Regions from separate parts of the Homo sapiens genome. Here region 2 is linked to region 1. The links come from fine-mapping of genetic effects on gene expression. A gene starts in region 1. The other region holds a variant in brackets. All regions are shown on one strand. Distances are between the middles of the regions.

The links. PIP is the estimated chance that this variant, and not a neighbour inherited with it, causes the effect. A credible set is the group of variants that fine-mapping cannot tell apart.
Region 2: its variant is the best candidate, but not a certain one, in a credible set for the expression of MBOAT1 in liver (GTEx, PIP 0.56).

What each region holds. Positions count from the first base shown.
Region 1 is chr6:20,211,301-20,214,334 of GRCh38, forward strand. MBOAT1 (membrane bound glycerophospholipid O-acyltransferase 1) reads right to left here and starts at 1,169. Exons shown (of 13, transcript NM_001080480.3): 1 at 836-1,169. The coding sequence starts at 934. RefSeq lists a silencer at 975-1,514 and an enhancer at 1,697-2,197.
Region 2 is chr6:20,158,908-20,161,407 of GRCh38, forward strand. All of the region lies in intron 1 of MBOAT1 (membrane bound glycerophospholipid O-acyltransferase 1), which reads right to left. Among named protein-coding and RNA genes, the nearest start is that of MBOAT1, 52 kb to the right of the region's middle. The variant G/A (reference allele first, on the strand shown) is at 1,533.

The DNA.
Region 1 (3,034 bases):
TGGGTCCTCCCCCAGCATGCCCTGCCCAATTCTATTTAAATCAACATTTACTGATTGGGTCACTACTAAGTATCCCGCAGATCTAGCCTGCAGCACCTGAAGAGACAAGGAAATGAGTAAGACGGGCTTCATCTTCAGGAAGGTTTCTTGCCAGGAATCACTGTTGTTGCCATTTTTAATTTTAATGGTTGTAGATAATTCCTGGACAGTTCAAATAACTTCACTGGGGCCCCTCTCCTCCCCCTAACCTGTCCTACTCAGAAGCTCCAGCCCCAGGCATATGAGCCAACCGAACCCTGGGAAAACCAAAGTGTCCTTGTGTGTCCCGCATCACACACGGTACAAAATAACTGTCACCCCTGAACAAGCCTCGCCTCAGAAGTCTAAAACCCAGGTCCTGCATTCAAAATCTATAGACTACCGTCTACAGATTCATCGCGCTTGTTTTTTAAGTAGGGTCATCTAAATTAAAAACAATAACGACTTGAGGACACTGATGAAAGAAACACTGGTTTCATGTATCAGACTACTTCAGAACTTGATTACAGGAAACGAGGCAATCCCAAACTTAAAGAAAAAAAAGTTCAGTAGAACTTGCCGCGCAGGCTGTACCAATATTTTTTCACACTTACAAGGAGAAAAACACTAACACCAACTCAAGAAGGGAAAACACACACACACACACACACACACACACACACACAAAAACCAACTGTCTAGTGTGTGGCTGTAAAATACGCCATGGAGGCGGAGGGACGGTGGCTAACACTTTCGCCCGCCCCGTGCACGCGATCGCTGGGGAGCTGGGGTCGCTGCGCTCCCGGCCTGCAGTTACCTGGTCCAGCGGGATGCCCAGGAGCTCGCTGAGCGGGTGCAGGTAGGTGGAGCCCGTGGTGCGGTAGGAAAGGCTGGACGGCTGCGGCTCTGCTGCCATCCTGCATCTTCGGGAGGTGGCTGCCCCTGTCCCAGCCCGCAACACCCCCTGCTCGGCGTCCTCCCGCCCGGGTGCTCTTGGGTGGTTGCCCCGAGAGGCGCACGGCCGCCTGGTTCGCGGGGGAGCGAACGGGAGGCCGGGGAATGCGAACCGGCGCAAACTCTCGAGGCGCAAACTCTCGAGGCGCAAACTTGGCTTTGGCGCTGGCGCTGCAGCCACGGGCGCCGTAGGAGGGCCGGGCCCAAGGCGCCCCGCTTCCCGCTCCCTTCCTCTCCGCGCCCATTGGCCCGGCCGCTCGGGACGGCCCCGAGAGGAGGGAAGGAGGGAGGAAAAGTGGGGACTCCGAGCCCGGCCCCCAAGCGCCGCCCGGCCCGCCCAGCCTGGCCTGCACCGAGGCCGACCGGGAGAGGGAAAGCGACGCCAGCGGGCGCCGCCGCCTGGCCCTGCAGCTGGAGGCGGGACGCGCCTTTCCTCCTCCCGGGCTGACCGTCCTAGCCCCCCGCCAGACAAAACGACCTCACCCAGCGGGCGCCTTCCACTAGAGAGCACCACCCACCCCGCCCCACCCTGTTTTGGTTTCGCCGCCGCAGTCGAAGCGGCTGAGTGGCTGCGTTTCCCTTTCAAGCCGTAGAGGGTTCCTCTGCCGGTGGCTGGAAGCTGGAGCGCCGCAGCCACCAGACTCCCTACTTCCTTTACCCTCCTCTGCGCTAGGCATAGTTTCCTACACCCTGATCTGACATGTTCGGTGTCACACAAGCAAATACAGGGGACTGCTAGCTTCGGGTCACTTCCGTCTCTGTGGAGTGAGAGTTATTTCACCTCTGTAAGAAACGGTGTTTACTGTCATACTATGTGCATTCTGATAAGTCATTTGCATGCCACGGGTCCTCAAAAAGGGTGCCTTGCTCCTTAACTTGTCTGCCCCCGAACACCCACACATCAATGTTACTTGGAAAACTTTTCCAAGTTATTGCTAGGTTCTGAGAAACATAAAAATCTTGAAGATCCTTTTCAGGAATCGCTAGCTGATGAAAAAGGGTTTCAGGAAGGTAATATTCTGGGCTGCTGGGTAGAAAACCAAAGAAAGTGAGCTCACGTGGCCCCCAGCCTCCGCTGGGTAAACCGGCATTCGATCAGACAGGCAATGACTTTCGGGGCCGACTTTATCAATGTGGCCTCCAGCTTCAAATTAAACCGAAGGCCTGTCAGGCACTGGCAACAACTTACTCTCCAAGACTCAGGCCTCACTCTTGCCTTCTTCAGGAGTTTTATCACCATCAAACTGCACTGAGCATTAAATTGCCAGGCCAGAGTTTCTCAACCTATGTCCCCTGTGGAGGAGGAAAAAAAAAAGTCTGTACCACCACTCCCACAAGCTAACCGAATGGAGATGTCACCACCAGATGATAATCTCTACCACTCACAAGCAAACCCACACTACAGACAGACAGACACATGCACACACGCACACAGGCATATACTTGAGGATCACTAGGCTAGATAGGTTCATTTAATATCATAGAGTCCTGGAAAATGACCAGCATTGGAGCAACATTCATCTTATCTGGAGCTAGATGACAGCTGAAGTGAGGTATATGAGAGCAGACGGAGCTTTGTTTAAAAGGAAAAAAAAATCAACACTCAGATATGAGTTGCTGGAAAACAGAAGTAGGTCAGTTTGGGAAGTATTTCTGGAGCAAGTGCCTCAGACCCTTTATAATTTTCACAAAGCTATGCCTTTTAGACTTCAAAGAATAGTCCTCACATAGGCCATATATATATATGTGTGTGTGTGTGCGTGTGTATATATATTTATTATAAATATATTAATTTATATAATCATATATAAATATATTTATATATGTAAAGTTTTATATGTACATATATTAGCCTTACACAGGTTTATATATACATATATTACACAGTTTTTATATATATATATAACACAGGTTTGATATATACATATGTATATATGTATATGTAAAATATATACATGTATTAGCCTTACACAGGTTTTTTTCTCCCTAACAAAACACAGTTCATAACCTAGTCTAAATTTTTCTTTTAAAAATGGCCGGGTGCGGTGGCTTATGCCTGTAA
Region 2 (2,500 bases), 53 kb before region 1:
TGAAAGATAACAAGTGCTTGGAGAGCTTGTGGAGAAAAGGGAACGCCAGCACACTGTCAGGAGAAATGTAAATCAGTACAGCCATTATGGAAAACGGTATGGAAGTTCCTCAAAAAACTACAACTAGAATTTGCCACATGATCCAGCAATCACACTTTTGGGTATATGCCCGAGGAAACTGAAATCAGTATGTTGAAGAAACATCTGCACTCCCATGCTCACTGCAATTCTAATTCAGGGGTCCCCAACCCCCAGGCCATGGGCCAGTACTGGTCCATGGCCTGTTAGGAACCAGGCCACACAGCAGAAGGTGAGTGGCAGGTGACCGAGAGAAGCTTCATCTGTATTTATACCACTCCCCATCGCCTGCATTACCGTCTGAACTCCATCTCCTGTCAGATCAGCAGCAGCATTAGATTCTCATAGGAGTGTACACCCTATGAGAACTATAGCCAAGATATGGAAGCAACCTAAGTGCCATCAAGGGATGAATGGATTTTTAAAATGTAGTATAGATGCACAATGGAATACTACTCAGCCTTTAAAAAGCAGGAAGTTCTGTCATTTGCGACAACATGATACACCTAGAAGACATTGTGTTAAATGACATAAGCCAGGCACAGAGAGACAAATACCGTATGATCTTAAGTGCATGTGGAATCTAAAAAAGTCGAAAAAGCAGAGAGTTTAACAGTGTTTACCAGAGGCTGGGGGTGGAAGGAAGTAGAGGAAGAAAGGGGAGACATTGATCAATGGGTACAAAGTTACTGTTTGAGGTGATAGGTTATGTTAATTAGCCTGATTTGATCCTTCCACAATATACATATGTATCAAAACATCACATTGTACCCTATAAACATATACATTATTTGTCAATTAAAAATAAAATAAAACTTACAAAACATATGTATCATGATGTTCCTTAATAAACCCTTCACATTTAAAAGGAATATATACAAAGTTTACTTTTCTACTGATCCACTCCCTCCAGAGCAGCAAATAAAGTGGCATTTTCATTCATGACATCCAGCAATGTGCTCTCAACAATTAAAGTATTGTGTGGGCCTTTATGCATGAGGGGACAGTAGAGCACAGCTATTTTGATCAGATTCCTATAAACAAGCAAGACTGACATAGCTCAGATTCAGCAAAAGCTCAATTTCCACAGCTCTTGCAAGATTTCAAAGTCGCCGCAAAGAAATAAAACACATGCCCAAGTGTTTGACTTCTTATTTCATCAAACCACAATCAAACTGTGCTACAATTTTCAAACGCAAGTCTTAAATCTACCCTAATGTGCTGCTAGAAAGACATTATTTGGGGATTTCTGTTCCATGGCCTTCATACTCTTCCAACAAAACAGCACACTTTGCCAGGAATTAAAAACACTGCCTTTCTCCTAACCAAGAGATGCAAACAGGCTATTTTTAACAAATAGCAAATATTAACGGTCCAAAAGTATTTCCCCTACTGCAGTGGTTTACCAGTGGCTCACCAATGAGCAACAGGCAACTGTCCAGGCCTGGAATGTC[G/A]AGTGTAACAAACTAAAAAGCTTCTGTACAACAAAGGAAAAAATTAACAGAGTGAAGAGACAACCCACAGATTGGGAGAAAATATTTGCAAATCATAAGGGGCTCATATTCAAAATATGCAAAGAACTCCAACTGCTTAATAACAAGAAAATAAACATTCGGCAACACTGCCTTACACGCTCCAAGGCAAAACCAATCAAGTTAAACAATTCCTTATTTAATGGCAGCCATTCTTCCAGCACAAACAGTACTCTTTTGCATTGCCCCCTACAAATAAATGTAGCTGGGAAAGAGTACTAAAAACGCTATTCCTTCCTGTACCACAGAACAAAAAGTGACTGTAGAATACCCTTGATTTACTTTACACTTTCAAAGGGATCCTTTGTTACACTTTCATTCCACACTCCTCAGAATGTCAGCAGGAAGTATTTTTAAATCTCTAAAGAGCCTTCTTTTTCCCAGTTTGTGGATAAGCAAATATTACTTAAGATTGATAATCAATGTACACAATTTATTGCCCAAAAGACCTCTAATTCAGGGGTTCCCAACCCCCCGGGCCACAGACCAGTACTGGTCCATGGCCTGTTAGGAACCAGGCCACACAGCAGAAGGTGAGTGGCAGGTGACTGAGAGAAGCTTCATCTGTATTTACAGTCACTCCTCATCGCTTGCATTACCACATGAACTCCACCTCCTGTCAGATCAGCAGCAGCATTAGATTCTCATAGGAGTGCAAACCCTATGGTGAACCATGCATGCCAGGGATGTAGGCTGCCGCTCCTTATAAGAATCGAATGCCTTACGATCTGTCACTGTCTCCCGTCACTCCCAGATGGGACCATCTAGTTGCAGGAAAACAAGCTCAGGGCTCCCTCTAACTCTACATTATGGTGAGTTGTATAATTATTTCATTATATATTACACTGTAATAAGAATAGAAATAAAGTGCACAATAAATGTAATGAGCT